Regions from separate parts of the Homo sapiens genome. Here region 1 is linked to region 2. The links come from fine-mapping of genetic effects on plasma protein levels. A gene starts in region 2. The other region holds a variant in brackets. All regions are shown on one strand. Distances are from middle to middle.

The links. PIP is the posterior inclusion probability: the model's chance that the variant is causal. Protein levels are from antibody-based Olink assays in UK Biobank. Linkage for the fine-mapping came from a reference panel and not from the study's own genotypes, which makes the PIPs less certain.
Region 1: its variant is fine-mapped to the plasma level of the IL22RA1 protein (UK Biobank, PIP above 0.99).

The regions. Positions count from the first base shown.
Region 1 is chr1:24,120,062-24,128,362 of GRCh38, forward strand. It overlaps IL22RA1 (interleukin 22 receptor subunit alpha 1), which reads right to left. Exons shown (of 7, transcript NM_021258.4): 5 at 8,080-8,218; 6 at 3,241-3,362; 7 at 1-1,676. The coding sequence ends at 744. Among named protein-coding and RNA genes, the nearest start is that of MYOM3, 12 kb to the left of the region's middle. RefSeq lists a silencer at 378-672. The variant A/T (reference allele first, on the strand shown) is at 4,534.
Region 2 is chr1:24,139,597-24,147,910 of GRCh38, forward strand. IL22RA1 (interleukin 22 receptor subunit alpha 1) reads right to left here and starts at 3,544. Exons shown (of 7, transcript NM_021258.4): 1 at 3,444-3,544. The coding sequence starts at 3,486.

The DNA of each region.
Region 1 (8,301 bases), 20 kb before region 2:
ACCTTCCTTTCAAACCCCATTCTCAGGATAGGGTCTGAAACTCCTGCCTGCAGAAAAGGCTTGTGTGTCTCCCTCCCTGGTGGACCTGCATTTCGCTTTGTTCTATCAGAGGAATGAAGCTGAAATCGTGCAACGTCAGGCAGTTGCCCTGGCTGGGAATGAGCTGCAGGCCACACCCCTCCCTAGAGTCCTGCCGTCCTGCTGGCCCTGGCCTTGGCAGAAGTGCAGGTTGTTCTGGTTCTGCCCAGCCTCCTTCTGGTTCTTTTCCAGGCCTGGTTCTTTTCCAGGCTCTCTTCCCACCTTTGAACAATGACAGAAGAGGCAGGGGCCTCATGCTCTGTCGAGCTAGATTGTGAAACTGGCCAGGAATGGGGCAAGGAGAGGCAAATTCCCTGAGCACTTTGAATCCATGGTGTTAGGAGGTGGGGCTCTGGACCTCGGGAGTTTCCCTGCATTTCCTCCTTGCACTGTCATTTCTGCCTTGCAGGGCTCAGCGAGCACGCGCTTGTCTACACAAGCTGCTCCCCAGAGCTCCCCCGCTGCAGTCCTTATCATGCTGCTTTGCTCCGGTGAGGAGCGCACCCATGGCAGGGGCCCTGCATGCCACTCCCTCTGCTTCTCTCAAGGGCACCCGTCTGAGGCCAGATCGCAGAGTGTGTGGCGTGGGCAGGCATGGGATTGACAGCCAAGGATGTGACACTGGGTAGGGACAGGGAGGAAGCACCAAGCCTTTCCCATTCCCCTCAGGACTCCCACTGCACAGTCAGGGCCAGGCCTCTGAAAAGAGAATCCAGTTCTGTGGGCTGCTCCAGGTCTGAGGTCTCAGGGGCTGGGCTCTTGGCTTCATCCTTGGGACACACAAGGGACTCCAGCAGGCCCCAGGGACTTGGACCTTGGTCCGAGGGGGAACATGGACGGGAAGGAGGTTGCAAAGGGAGGGACATGGGGTGGCCCTCGATCTGGACTGAGGAGAGGAGGGGGAGCTGGCCCTTTAGGTACTGTGGTGTCCCTTCCTCCCCACTGTGTAGCACATTTGGGTCAGATGTTCTGTCTGTGCAAATCCCCAGGGGCTGGTGCAATGATTTTGCTTCTTGGGATTCCTCCATAGCCAAGGAGGTCACCTCCTGCAGAGAAAGGCCACCTAACATGCAGCTTCCAGCTGGTGGCTCTTTCTGAAGCTGACCTTTAGGCCTAAGGTGTTTAGGACTAGAAAGTGTCCCAGTGGGGGAGTCTTTGCCAGAACCTTCCATGCATACCCCATAGGAGGGAGGCCAGCTGTCCGGAGTGGCTTGAGGGGCATAGGAGGAAGGCTGGACCTTAGAGATGGCCTGTGGGGCGTAGAATGGGAATTGAGCTTCGGGGGTCACCTGAGGTGCATAGGATGGGGGCCCGACCTCAGGGGCAGCGTTTGGGGCATAGGACAGTGGGGAGAGGATCTGGGGAGGTGGCACGTTGGAGGGCTGGAGGATGGAGATGTCTGGCTGCCCTAAGTAGGTGATCTCGGACAGGCTATGCCGCTGTGGAGCTCCTGCGGGCTCCCTGGGTCCAGACACCCTGATCTGGGAGTACTGGACAGGCTGGGCCAGACTGCTGGGGCCGCTGAGGTCAAAGACAGGGATCAGGACGTGCTCCTGGATGAAGCGCAGCGGCTGGAAAGTCAGGACTCGCTGGACGTTCTGTGCAGGGACGACAACAGTCACCCCCCTGTGGTTAGGGTAAGTCCCAAGCTCCCTACTGGTGATGTGGGTGGGTGAGGTCCTCCATAGGGAGGCATCTGGGGGCTTTTTCAAGATGCGTCTGTCCCATATCCCCATCTGCTTCCCAGAGACTCCTCTAGGTGCAAGTGCCTCTCTGAAGGGACAGGGTCTCTCAGCTCTTTGGTTCTAAAGCCTGGGTTATCTCAGGGAGAGAGATCTGGGCTCTGGTTTCTCCAGGAGGCGGATAATCCAGGGAGTAGATGACCAGGATTTGGGGTTGCCTTGGGGCATGATCTCGAGGTGGTGGCCCGCATTGTTGCTTGGCCCACGGGTCCCTGAGGGCCTAATACAGGGTCAGGGTGGGAAAAGAAGGAGCCAGGAGAGACCGGGAGAGCTTTACAGAAAATGCTTCATCTGGACTTGCACATTGAGCAAAACTCCCTCAGAGCTCCTCTGTCCCTCCGATGGGCAAGAGCAGGCTCCGGGTGCCTCAGGTGGCTCAGCTCATGGCTTCTGCAGTGGCCTTGCTGCTCTAGCAGAGGCGGCACTGGCGTCAGGTGGGGGCTGCTGATGTGATTTGTGTGGCTGATGTAGGGCTTTCCATTTTATTTTTATTTTTTGGGTGGGGGGTGGTTTTATTTTTTGGGTGGGGGGTGGTTCTGGTCTTCACTTGCTACAGCAATTCTAAAAGAACTGTAACAAAGGGCTTTCCACTTAACAATTAGTTTTGCCATTTAAAAATTTCTGTTTAAAATGGCCAGGTGCAGTGGCTCACGCTTGTAATCCCAGCACTTTGGGAGGCCGAGGTGGGTAGATCACCTGAAGTCAGGAGTTTGAGACCAGCCTGGCCAACATGGTAAAACCCGTCTCTACTAAAAATACAAAAATTAGCCAGGTGTGGTGGTGGTGCATGCCTGTAATCCCAGCTACTTGGGAGGATGAGGCAGGAGAATCGCTTGAACTCGGGAGGTGGAGGTTGTGCTGAGACGAGATCATGCCACTGCACTCCAGCCTGGGTGACAGAGGGAGACTCCATCTCAAAAAAAAAAAAATCTGTTTAAAAAATTAGTTCTGAATATTTGAAAATTGGGAGATTCCACAATATAATCTGAAACTCTGGCTTCTCTTGAAAAACATGAAGATCAGGCAGTGCTGGGCCTGCATTCCCACATGGTGGTGCCCGGCTGCCCATTTAGACAGGGCATGAGTGCCACGGCTCTCCTGGCGCCCACCATTCCTCCCTCGTTGCCTTGCTGCTCACTCAAGTCCCACACTACCCTCCTGGTGCTGGACACTTCCAAGCCATGTGGGTTTTTTATTCCATGTCTACTATTCCTGATCACCCACCCCACTTCAATGTGTCCTGAGACCTGCTGGGCTACACGTCCGTTGACTTTAGCTGGGACTGTGAGCTCCGTGAATGGAGAGAGCAGGCCCATCTCCTGCTTTGTCTGTGGATCCCTGCATTTTGGGGACAACTGGGGACCTCGGAGCCCAGGCCCTCCCCTGGACCTCTCCCTCCCACCCTGGGGGGATGGCTCACCAGGGAGTTGGGAGGTGCAGGCGGCTTGGTGACATATCTGTAGCTCAGGTAGCAGAGTACTGCGACGAGGAAGCCCATGGAGAACAGGAAGGCTCCGGAGAAGGAGTAGGTCCATGTCCGGTCTGGGAAACCAAAGGGGCCAGAGAAGGAAGCGTGAGGCTGGGCTCTGCCTGGGCCCGGTTGGGTCTGGCCCCACATGTGGATGCTGAAAACCCTCTCTGGCTGGGCTGGCAAGGCCTCTCCTACCGTCAGAATGCAAGATCACAAATGGAAGTCCATATACTGTACATCTAAATAGTCAGAATTTACAAATTATATTTTTACACTGTTAAATAAATAAAATGTTCGAGGTTTCCACCTTAACAAAAAGATTTTTTACAACCACCTGGGATGCCATATTTTAATTCAGAGTTCTTGGACTTCTCTAGGTACTGTGCTGAAGTGGGGAGGTACAGGGAAAGCCCGCAGCGCACTGCAGGCCCCCAGCCCAGCCCAGCCCAGCCCAGTTCCATCCCACACTGCCAGGGCCCTCACGCACATGTGTATAGATGCCCCAGCCCTCATGGTCGAGCTCATCCATGTCCCCTCCAAATAGCCACCTGTTGGTCATCCTTTGGGCCAAGGGTCTGCACTACATGTCAGCAGTGTCTGCCCTCATGAGGAAGTACCCCCAAAAGAGGACTGCCTAGACGGATCACAGGCTCTGGGCCATATGTACAGAGAGTTTCAGGGTCCCAGGTACTCACAATGTGATCTAGAAAGGAGGTCACAGGATCCAGATGGATCTGCCCCCTTTGTTGTATGGAGTCTTCATCTTGCAAGGAGGGGAATGGCCAGGACAGGGCCAGAGAAGGGCCTTCTAAAGTGCTGGGTGCAGGGAAAGGCCCCTTTTGCCTGAGTCTAAGGGTGGTCCTGCCTCCCTGGTAGGGTAGAGGCAGAGGGAGGGGAGAAGTGAAAACAGGGAGGCCTGTCCTCTCCACCTCCCTACCAAGATAAGGGGCTGGGCATCAGGGAAGATCTTGGTCAAGAAGGGAGCCTGGGAAGGCACTGTCCTGTCTAAAATGGAGGGGAGAGGGATGACTAGGGCTCTAGTGCCTGAGCCTCTCCCTGTGTCTCAGCATCTTTGGGATGGGTGCAGCCAGTTCCAGGCAGGACACACTTCCTGTCACCAGTCCAAGTGGGGCTTGTGAAGGACTTATGGAGGAAGAGGTTGTTGGAGTTTTTGGTAAAACTGACAGTTTGCAACAGAGGGAAGGTGACTCAGAGAGTCAAGACCCCTGCAGTCCAGGGGCC[A/T]GCTAATCACCCTCCCTCTCTTCCTGGCCCCTGTGCAGCCTCAGCTTGGAGAGTTTATCAATAGCTCCAATGACCTCGGCGATCACTGTGAACTCCGGGTACTGCTGGAACCTCTACTTCTAGCCCACTCCTCGATCCTCCCCTAGCCCACGAGCTTGGGCCTCTCTGGGTCAGCTTCCCACTTCAGTGAAACCCTGTCTCCTGTCACATGTTACCCCCATCCCTACTCCAGGAAAAAGACCCCACCCGAATGTCTATAACATTCCTGGAAAACCACTGCTGTTTGTTCCAGGACAGAATAGGGACATGGAATGGTCTCTGGCTTGACATATTTCCATTTCACACTGTGTGTATTGGATACATTGCCATTTCACCCATAGGGAGGCTGGATGGAATATAAAAACACCACCAGCCTGAGAGTAAGGAATACAGGGTGTTAGAGGCCTGGCTCTGCCACAGATATGCTGAGCATCCTTCCTGCTGCACGACCCTCTCTGGTCTACCCTTTAATAATAACAGTAGCCAGCAGTGGTTGAACTCCTACTACAGGCCATGATCTGTATGATCATGTAGAGCTGGGTGCTCTACCTATGTTATCTCACTACATCATCAAACACATCACAGAGGGGTAGGGACGCTCCCTTCCTATGGATAACAAAGCTGAGTCCCAGAGAGGTTAAGTGACCTGACCAAGGTCACACAGCTACTCAGTGGAGTTACATGTGTAACTCAAAACTCATCCTCCCTGCCACTCTGCAAGGAAGCCTCAGTTTCCTCATCTGTAAGAGTAGGATATGAGGTGAGGTGGCCCTTAGAGCCTCTTCCGTCATCAAGATGCTGGGACAATGCTCTGTGACCCTCCCTGTTTATCTACGGAGAGGTAGGTAAAGGGGATTCTGAGGGTAATGCAGACGTCAGGATACACAGTCAAGGGCAGGATGCATCACTCTGAAATGGAAGTAGGAGGAAGAAGTGTGCAGTACAGGGGGCTCACTGTAAACAAAGTTGCAAAGTGGTGGGTAGAGCCCAGCCTTCAGAACCAGATGAATCAATCAGGTTCCCCAAGCAGCTGTGCGGTCACAGGGAAGTTGCTTAACCTCTCTGAGCCAGAGTTCCTCCTCTGTAAAACGAGGATGATGCTACCCAGCTTACAGGATTGTTGTAAAGATTAAATAATATATGTTACATGTAATAATAAAGATTAAATAATATATGTAAAGCATTTGGCACAACTATTTGCTTGGCAATATAGTAGAACCTAATAAATGTAGGAATTGTTTTAAATATATTTTTAAGGATAAGGTGCCTTCTATATGTCAGCAAGAAGTAGCCACCAGGAAGTGTGATTTATATAAAAGCTATAGTCTTAGGAAAAAATGGTATCTCATTATAAGCAAGACAAAGTAAGGCAACAGAAGGGTGTTGTGGGTAAGGGTGGAGTGGTCTTCACATTGTCAAAAAGCTGGTGGGCCAGGTCCCATGGGCCAGGAGCAGCTGAGATTTATCTAGGACAGTCCAGGGAAGGGGGTCATGAATCATACAAACACTCCCAGCTTAGCCCCAGAACGTCAGTTTCCTTTTTCTAGTTCTCCTCTTGCCAAGTTCTATTCTGAGCTCCCTAGCAGCCTTTGCCCCAGGAAGGGCATGCCCCATGCAAGTGGCCAGTGTTGGCTGTTCCGTGAGGCATAGCTCCCCTGCCAATTGGTGCACTGGGATTCAGGTGGAGAAATCAGTCTCTTGTGGGCTGTTTGGAAAAGTGATGAGTTTCCGAACAAACCTGAGGACCAGAGTGTCATTTTCTAGGGCCCAGCTCTGGCAGCTGCCTGGCCTCTGATTATCACCTCAGCCCAGGCATCAGCATCCCTATTTGTCAGATGAGGGATCAGGCTCCCAGAGGCTGAGTGACTCCCCCAGGCACGTGGTTGGCTGACATCTGACTAATACCGTGCCTTCTCATTCCTCACACGGTACTTCTCTTTCCACTATGCCACACACAATGTCCAGCTTGCAAACTCAACTCTATTCTGAATGTTGGCATGGTTGGAACTGAAATCACTTACTGACATCATGAATCTGAACATGAGGATAAAGTGGAGACTGTTTTACCAAATCTATCACATCCACTGCCGTCACCTTCATCCTCTAAACCTGCAGCTCTGAGCAATACAACGTTTCCCTCCGTCTATGAAAAGAAACACTAATAAAAACATCATGATGCTTGTGATGAGAATCAAGTTTCAGTGTGCTAGAGGAAGGGACCATCTCACTGAGCAGATGATTCAAAACTATATCTAGGCTGGGCGTGATGGCTCATGCCTGTAATCCCAGCATTTTGGGAGGCTGAGGTGGGTGGATCACTTGAGGCCAGGAGATCAAGACCAGCCTGAGCAACAGGATGAAACTCCGTCTCTACTAAAAATACAAAAAAAAAAAAAAAAAAATTAGCCAGGCATGGTGGCACACACCTGTAATCCCAGCTACTTGGGAGGCTGAGGTGGGAGAATTTCTTGAAACTGGGAAGCAGAAGTTGTAGTGAGCCGAGATTGTGCCACTGCACTCCAGCCTGAGTGACAGAGTAAGACTCTGTCTCAAAAACAAAAAACAATAAAAACCCACAAAAAACCCAACTGTATCTATAGTAGCTCTGTGGTAAGAGCATGGCCTCTAGAATTAGGCCTCATTCCATCCCTCAGCACCTGTGTGACCTTGGGCAAGTCACTTTTTTTTTTTTTTCCGAGACAAGGTCTCACTCTGTCATCCAGGCTGGAGTGCAGTGGTGCAAACATAGCTCTTTGCAGCTTCAACCTCCTGGGCTCAAGTGATCCTCTTGCCTCAGCCTTCTGTGTAGCTGGGACCACAGATGCACGCCACCATACCTAGCTAAGTTTTTGATTTTTTTGTGGAGATGGGGTTTTGCCCTGTTTCCCAGGCTGGTCTTAAACTTCTGGGCTCAAGTGATCCTCCTGCCTTGGCCTCCCAAAGTGTTTGGTTTACAGGTGTGAGCCACTGTGCCCGGCCATGGGCAAGTTACCTAACCACTCTGAACCTCAGGTTCTTCATCTGTAAAATGAGGATGAAAATAATACCTACCTCATAGACTGCTCATGAGGCTTGCCCTTGGTTGTGCCTGGTTCCCAGTTAGCACTGCAGAAATGCTAGTTATCATGATACCATTATTATTATTTGACTTTGGAAGATATTGAGGGATCTTTTTATCTTCTCTGCTTCCCCCCTGCAGATTTTCCCTCCAGTATATCTCACCTGGGTTAATATTAAGGTGAGTTTGCTTTGCCAAGGTACACATAAGGCCTGTCAGAGAGGGGAAATCCAGACATAGGCTGGAGGGTGAGAATCAAACATTTGCTTTGATAACTCATCAGCCAACTCTTTTATGGATAAACAAAGATTGACTTCAATAACACACTGATAACCCTTCCATGGTTTTCTAGAGTGTTGCCAAGTCTCACCTTGGTTACAGGGAGGAAAGAGAAGAGTCAAGACTTGAATTCGGGAGCCCCACCTCCCTCTGGTTTCAGCCGAACTCACCTGGCAGTGTCTTCACTCGGCACATGTAGGGGGCACTCTCCTTGGCCCAGGTGGGAACGCAAATCATGATGGTGCCAAGGAACTCTGTGTCAGGGGTCAGGCCGAAGAACTCATATTCTCTCTGCTTCCCTCCAAGGTGCTGAATTGGACAGAGAATGGAATGTGATTCCTGTTACACACCGATCTCCACATAGAGCCCAAGGAAGCTTGCTCGCTCCTCCT
Region 2 (8,314 bases):
GATCATGGCTCACTGCAGCCTCGACTTCCTGGGCTTAAGCAATCCTCGCACCTCAGCCTCCTGTGTAGCTGGGACTACAGACATGCACCACCACATCCGTCTAATTTATTTTTAAATTTTTTGTAGTGATGGGGTCTCATATATTGTCCAGGATGTTATGGCTGCACCATCTTAAATTCCCACCAGCATTGTTTGAGGGGTTCAGTTTCTCCACATCGCCATTGATGCTTGGTATTGTCTCTCATTCACTTTTTAACACAACCTGAAGTTGGTGTCCTCACCCTTATTTTAGAGATATGTAACTAAAGTGTGTAAGAAGTGACTTGCCCCAAGTTGATCAGATGAAGCAATGGTGGAGGAGGCGCTCTTGACTGAGCCCACACGTGGGCAGGGTGGCCTTGGGAAAGTTGTTTAAGCAACGAGAACTTCAATTGCCTCATCTCTAAAATGGATATAGTTTGATTTACCGAAAGACAAACAACAATGACAACAGCAGCCACTGGCATTTGTGAAGTGCACAGCCTCTTTCAGGCAAGTCCCTCCCTTCATTAAATCCTCACGACAACGTGCCCACTATCACTATCCCCATTTGATGAATGAGCTGAGGCTCAGAGAGAGCTGCCGCCCAGCATCACAGTTAGCATGTGAAGAACCTACAATATTCATCCCAGTGCTAGACTGGTTGTGGGGCGGATAGAGCGGGTTGGCGTCTGTGAATGTGTTTAGTGTCTAACAGGCCCCTATGTACATGTGTTGAGTCTGAAGGGAGGAGACCTGGGAAGGGAAGACATTCGCTCTGTAGGGAGGGGGCTATCTTGTTCACCCTTTTATATGAGGGTGGGGGGCTTCAGGGACCTGAGCACCTGATAAAGGGATGAATTTAGGGAGGAGGAGAAGAGAGAGGAGAAGAGAAGCTGGCCATTGAAGAGTCCACAGCCCTCTCTTCCAGGCTAGGTCTTTGTCCAGCCCACTTCTGCTTCTGTTAAGGGAAGGGCAGTGAGGGCCTGAGCCTCAAGGAAGGGGCTGGGGAGGGGCTGCAGCCTCTAAAGCAATCTGCACTGTAAACAAAGAGTCCTTAACTTATAAAACCCTTCCCTCAGGCCCCCAGGCTTGGGCTGTGGAGAGCAAGAGCCTGCGGGAAAATGGCGGCCCAAGCTGGCAGCTGGCTCGGAGCTCGGAGGCCCTGGCCGGCTGGCGTGGGAAATAAACAGGTGGGAAAATGTTAAGCAACCCCAGCTGGGTCAAGGCCTTGCGGCCTGGGTGTGTGTCTTGAATATGTCTGTGCCTCTCCTTCCCCAGACACGTCTACGACTGCCAGTGGGCCCAAGGTGTGAGGGAGCAGACAGTTATTGATTCCCCTACTCCAACTCTACACACAAGAGGGGTCCTCAGGCTTGGCGAGGACCGATGGGGACGGAAGAATGGTCCGACCCCGCTGCACATCCTCTGGCCAACCTCGAAGGCTGCCCTCCTCTCTGAATTTGGGTTCTGGCCCAGCAGCTGCAAAATGTCTTCAGGCTTCCTGGAGTCCCCAGAATGGGGCCTTAGGGATGGCGCGGGGAGGGGTCTACTGCCTCTACGCAAGGTGACGGCTGTGCCGTGGAGCCTTAGGATGTAGCTGACATCTTGTTTGGATGTGAGGCTGGGTGGAATTGGGGTCAGTTCTGGAGGGAGGGGTCCTGGATTCAGGGCTGAGTCTAAAGTTGAGGAAAGGAGTCCAGTCAAGGTCAGACCTGAACAGTGGCTTCTGGTTGGGTGGTGGGTCAGGGCAGAAGGGTGAGGGTGGGCTTTGAGAAGCCAGGCTCCATCAAGGCTTGGGGTAGAGTCTGCAGCGGGAACGGTTGCTGGTTGAGGTCAGTGTTCTGGGTGGGAAATAGAGGGCCCATCTGGGTTGCAAGGAGGCTGGTGGCTGAGGTGGGGGCATGTTGCCAAGGCAAAGGACCCTGGGCTACGTGGAGGTTGGCACCACTTTTCAGGAGGGAACTGCAGTTAGCTTCCTGAAGTGGGGTAAGTGAACCTAGGCCCACTCCTGTCTTTTAGGGATGTCAGGGTCTAACAAGATCTCCCCCTCTTCTCCCACCCTCCTCGCTCCTTTTCCTCCTCAAATCTATCATCCATTCCTCAGCCTGTGTTGCTTCGGCACTTCCCGGGTGAAAGTCTATATTGTGAAATCTGGGGAGACATGTGTTGTGTGGAGCCTGGCAGCCTGGCGGATTTATAAAAGGCAACTTGTTTTTTCACATTCATGTGGAAAAACAATGTTCTGTCAACCAGCTGGGAAGCTAAGGAAAAATACACAAACAAGAAACAATTCCACATGCTCTGGAGTCAGCCTAAGATTGGGGGGGTGAGGGCCCGGTGTGTGCAGCGCGAGGCAGCTGACCCTTGACAATCTCCTAAGGGCTATTTCTTGGGGTCCCCCATCTCAAAGGGCTGGGAGCCTCTAGGATTTCTAACCAGTATGGCTGAGGGTCTAAAGGGACGTGTCTTGGTGCCTCAAGGGGGTGCCTCACATCTTCCTGGAACGCCCAGCTTGATGCTGGGAAGCAGACTGGAGGGGGTCCCACAGAGCTGGAAGCCCTGGAGACGCAGGCAGCCCTGGCGGGACAGTGGCAGAGAAGGTGGGAAGCTCTGCCTTTTCGTGGGCCTCGTCCTGCACTTGAGCAAGGAGGGCCTGGCCGAGGCCATACCTGCTCGCCATCCTCAATCAGGACTATGCTTTGACTTCCTAAGGAAGTTCCCTGAATTTCATGCAATGCACCAGGAGAGCAGAGAGAGAGTCTAGGGTCTCATGTAACGTTCTCCATAATGATGAGCCCCCCACTCCGCTCACTTTATTGGCTTTGAACACTATGCCCTTAAGACCTGTTTCCAAATGAGTCCTGTGTCTTAAGACCTATTAATGTAGCAGACCTGGCCACTCTAGGAGAAAATGCTCTTTCAGATCTATGATAACAAAAGGGGCCAAAGAGGCCCTGCAGGGGCATGGAGGGAGGCAATAGTGAACTCAAGCTTCGTTTCCCCCGGTCCTTCCTCCTCCTCCCCTGTCAGGCCAGTGCCAAGTGAGAGGCAGAGGAAGGATGGTACAAACTGTGCCGACACCGTTTGAGGGACCGAAGGATGTCTGCCTCCTCCAGGCCAATTCTCCATTCACTGAGGTGCAGCGATCCAGCACCCCCAGTTCAGACAGCTGGCTATATCCCTCAAGACCCGAGGGTCCTTTGGGTCCCTGGAAGAACCCAGGGTCTGAGGCACCCTCTCATGCCCCCAGCAAACTAAGCTGGGCATTTGCTTCTCCGTGAACACCCGGCACCCTGCTCAGCCCTAGCAGGGGAGAAACTGAAACTGGCTATGCTCGGGCTGGGGAGGGTGCTGGGGAGATGACCCTGATCGTTGGCCCCTGGGATAAGGGAGGTCTGACCACAGGGTAGATGGGCACTCACCAGCCAGGGATCCCACAGTCAAGATGGTCAGCAGCGTCCTCATCGGGGCTGGCACAGAGCCCTCCCTTGGCCTCTACTCTGCCGTGCACAGAGAGAGGGCTGGGAGTCTTGGCGCCCTGGCAGCTGGCTCCACCCGGGCATGGGGCGGGGAGAAGGGGGTGGGTGGGACCTGTGCCGGTGGGGAGCAGGGGTACAAAGGTGTCCTGGCCCTGTGTGCTCTGGAATTCCAGGTTCTGGGCGGGATCTAAGGGAGTTCCCTTCCGACTTGCAGAAAACAGCAATAGTAACAGGCTGGCTTGTTTATCTGGTCCGGTGGCTGATTCATCCCAAGTGGTTTATCAAGGAGCTGAGGGGCAGAAAAGGCAAGAATAATCCACGATATGCAGCCTTATCAAAAAGCAATTTGGCACTGTGGATCAAAAGCCTACACCACATACATATCTTTTGCTTTAATAATTCTATTCCTAGGGGATTTACCCTGATGAAAATAACTGGACAACAGAGGGGGAAAAAAAAGGTCCCAGAATGTTTCTTGCAGCAAAGGAAAAGCTGTGACTCCTTTGCTTTTCTGGCAGGAGGAGATTGAGGGCACCCGATGCTCCTCCTTGATCCTCCATATCAAGGCAGGTCCCCACGCTTGGGGTGGGCTTGGGAACAGCTCTCCCCTAGAGAGGCCGTTGGGGGTGAGGAAGCCCAGCCGCTCTTACCTTGAGCCTTTGGGTCTAGGATCTGCAAAAGTTTAGAAAAAAAATGGAACTCAAACTTCAGTGATTCTTTCTGCTGTGCTAGAGATGGGGCTGAACTTCATGAATGGGGCTTTGGTTCGGGACGATGAAGATTCAGGCTGCTCTCCCATCATTTTGCCACGTAGGGCAGGATCTGCACATGAGCTTCGTGTGAATGAAGGGACAGGTGTTTAGGAAATGGTTTTCTCCTTCCTGCAGGGCCTGGAGAAGGTAGAAGGGCCCTGGGGCCTGGACTCTGGTCAGGGTGGACACGATTGGAGGGTCCTGCCCCTGGGGAGAGTTTGCCTGGCCCCAAGCACACAAAGGCAAGCGAAATTTTAGCAGGGATCCTGCCAACGGGTTGGGTGTAATGGGCTGTGATATGCTGAGATCGGTGTTTAAGTTTTTCTTTCCTGAATTGTAATTGTTATCAGCCCTGATTGCTAAAGTTTGTTTGACAAAACAGCCAAATCTAAGCTGTGCTTTGGAGGAATTAAGGTAGGGCCCATGCCAGTCATTTCCTGAAACTGCAGGAAACTACATTTTCTAGACTCCTTTATCAACTGCTTTCTGATAGGTTTAGCCCCTGGGGGAAGACTGGGGAGGCAGAGATCAGAGCATTTCTCCCCTCGTTTTCTGTTTGAGTGGCTTCCCCAGCAATGGCCATATCCCTCTGCAGTTCTGGCTCCCTCTGGACAGTCCATCAGCCAGGCAACCCCTTATGTCTTTCTTGTTCCTGTTTGGAGGCCAGCTCCTGGCTCTGGCAACACCTTCTCCCCTCATCTTTCCTTTCAGTTGGTGGGATGGCACAGCTTCCTGCTTTGGGGAAATCTCTGAACTGTCTGTCCTGATTAGTGTCCCAGCTCCTTCATCCTCTGGGTGACGAGCTCCTTTACATTAAAGTCCCTTGGTCTGAAAGACTGGAGAGGTTTCTGTGCTACTGAATGAACCATGATGGATAGAGGGTTTTTGATGACTTTGATGACAAGGCAGTGTGGGGAAGCTACAGCGAGAAAAACAGGTTACAAGGGACGCTTAGGGAGAAGAGCAGGCTTTGGTCCCAAGTGGCTGGCCGAGAGGACAAGACGCAGCCCCAACAGGTCTGTGGAACACGAAAGTGTTCCTTGGGGCCTCTCAGAAGCACTGGAAGAAGGAACTTGATGGAGGAAAAGGGCATCCTGTAGTTTCGAGGGCCTGTGGTTATGTAGGAATTAACGGGAAGGAAGACACCTGGATTGCTAAGGAATGTGGGAACACCCAGACTTCATTTCTAACAGTTTAAGAAAAAAATAGGTGGGGCGTGGTGGCTCATGCCTGTAATCTCGCACTTTGGGAGGCCAAGGTGGGCAGATCACCTGAGATCAGGAGTTCGAGACCAGCCTGGGCAGCATGGCGAAACCCTGTCTCTACTAAAAATACAAAAATTAGCCGGACATGGTGGCGGGCACCTGTAATCCCAGCTGCTCGGGAGGCTGAAGCAGGAGAATTGCTTGAGCCCAGGATGTGGAAGTTGCAGTGAACCGAGACCGCACCATTGCACTCCTGCCTGGGCGACAGAGCGAGACTCCGTCTCAAAAAAAAAAAAAAAAAAAAAAAAAAGGAGAAAAAAATGAAAACAACCTCCATGTCTGACAATAGAGGTTTGGTTAAAAGAATAATGGTATGTCCACCCAAAGCAAGACAAATGCAGCTTCCAAAATAATGCTGGAGAAAAATGTTTCGTGACCTGGTAAAGACTCATCATATTTTTTCAAGTGAAAAGAGGCATAACATAACCTATGTACAGTACCACCCTGGCTAAAACGCACACCTGCACACGCAGAGCAAACTGCGTGTCTTCATGGATATAGATGAAAACACTAGGGGCGTTATCTCTGGGTGGTAGTGGAATTGTAGGTGATTTTTCTTTTCTTCCCTTTGCTTATCTGCATTTCCTAAAGTTAATATAGGAAATACACTAATTTATATTAAGGGAAAGCAAGGTTACTAAACATAACAAATCGGCATTAAAGACAAGCCTTTGTTGGGGCTCTATCCTCCTCCTGGAATGCCATTTCCACTCCCTTAGCCAATTCCCTTTTCCTCGAATCTCACCAAGACAGTTTTCTTCTGCGATATGGCCCTTCTTGATAACTCCAGCCCATAACATCTCACTTTGAAAGTCCTTCCAGAGGCCAGGCACCGTGGCTCATGCCTGTAATCCCGGCATTTTGGAAGGCCAAGGAGGGAGTATCGCTTGAGTCCAGGAGTTTAAAGCCAGCCTGGGCAACATAGTGAGACACTGTCTCTATAAATAATAAAAAATTAGCCAGGTGTGGTGGCACATGCCTGTAGTCCCAGCTACTTGGGAGCCTGAGGCAGGGAATTGCTTGAGCCCAGGAGATCAAGGCTGCGGTGAGCCATGACTGCACCACAGCACTCAGCCTGGGCAACAGAGTGACACCTTGTCTCAAAAAACAAACGAACTTAAAAACAAAGTCCTTCCAGAATATGTGGTCTGGCCTGCATTTTGGCATTGTCCACTATGATACTTCAGCTGTGTTACATGTTCAAGAATGGAAAGGAGGCCAGGCGCCATGGCTCATGCCTGTAATTCCAGTACTTTGGGAGGCTGAGATGGGCTGATCACTTGAGGCCAAGAGTTCGAGACCAGCCTGGCCAACATGGTGAAACCTTGTCTCTACTAAAAATACAAAAATTAGCCAGGCATGATGATGCACACCTGTAGTCCCATCTTCTCGGGAGGCTGAGGCAGGAGAATCAGGAAGAATGAGGGAGAATCAGGAAGAATGAGGAAGAATCTGGAAGAATGAGGCAGGAGAAGCAGGGAGTCTAGGGTCCCTAGACTCCCGGCGGAGGTTGCAGTGAGCCAAGATCGTGCCACTGCACTCCAGCCTGGGCGACAGAATGAGTGAGACTCCATCTCAAAAACAAACAGGCCAGGCTCGGTGGCTCATGCCTGTAATCCTAGAACTTTGGGAGGCCGAGGTGGGCGCATTGCCTGAGGTCAGGAGTTCGAGACCAGCCTGGGCCACATGGCAAAACCCCGTCTCTACTAAAAAAACAAAAAAACAAAACAAAACAAAAAAGGCTGGGCATGGTGGCGAATGCCTATAATCTCAGTTACTCGGGAGGCTGAGGCAGGAGAATTGCTTGAATCTGGGAGGCGGAGGTTGCAGTGAGCCGAGACTGAGCCACTGCACTCTGGCCTGGGTGACAGAGCAAGACTCTGCCTCCAAACAAACAAACAAACAAAAGAATGAACAGGAGAGATTCGAGTTGGAGTGGAGGTGAAACATGAGCACCGTCTTCAAATATTTGAGGGGCTATTGCATGGAGAAGGCTCTAGACCTTTTTTGTATAACTACCTCTAAAAGGAAAACTAGGGTGGTCAGGGGGAGACATATTAGAGAGGCCATTTTTTCAATTTAAGGAAATCACTCTCGCTATGATGGTGTGGCTGCCTTGAGAGGTAGAAAGGTCTTGGCTGCTGGAGGTGTTCACAACGAAGCTGCCTTCAGTGGCAGAGGTTCCCCAGATAACCTCGTTCTCTGGGCTCCAAAGTTGGATGGTGCTCGTCAAGCATTCTGATTGCAAAGAGCCCGCTGGTATTCCTCTGTACCCTCCACATGGCTGAATGTAGAGCAGGTATCCAACATCGACTTACAGCGTTGACCTTCAGAGCAGCAGTTTCGCCTTGCTGATTCTCAGACCTCCAGGAAAAGCACTTGTTTTCTGACAAATTTCTCCAGTGCACCCATGCACTGTCTTGCCTCTGAGAATCCCTTTCCACCTCCACTTTCCTGTCTCACTCCGATTCATTCTTCAGGCCTCTGCTTAAATTCACTTCCACCAGGAAGCTTCCCCTGTGTGAGCTGCTCCCTTGGTTGGGTTGGGAACACCAGCTCTGTGTTCCCATCTCCTAGTATGCATTGCATGGTGCTTTCCCATTCCCCATGGCACTGACTACAGGGACAAGGCCTGGAGCTCGCTCTCCTGGGTATCTCAGTGTCTAGTAGGAGCTGGCACAGAGCAGGTACTTCGTAAGATTTGCTGAATGAATGAGTGTGCCGGAGAAAGCTGGCCAGGGCTTTAAGACTGTAGGGAACATCCCCAAGCTATAGAAAAAGCACATTTTACAATGAA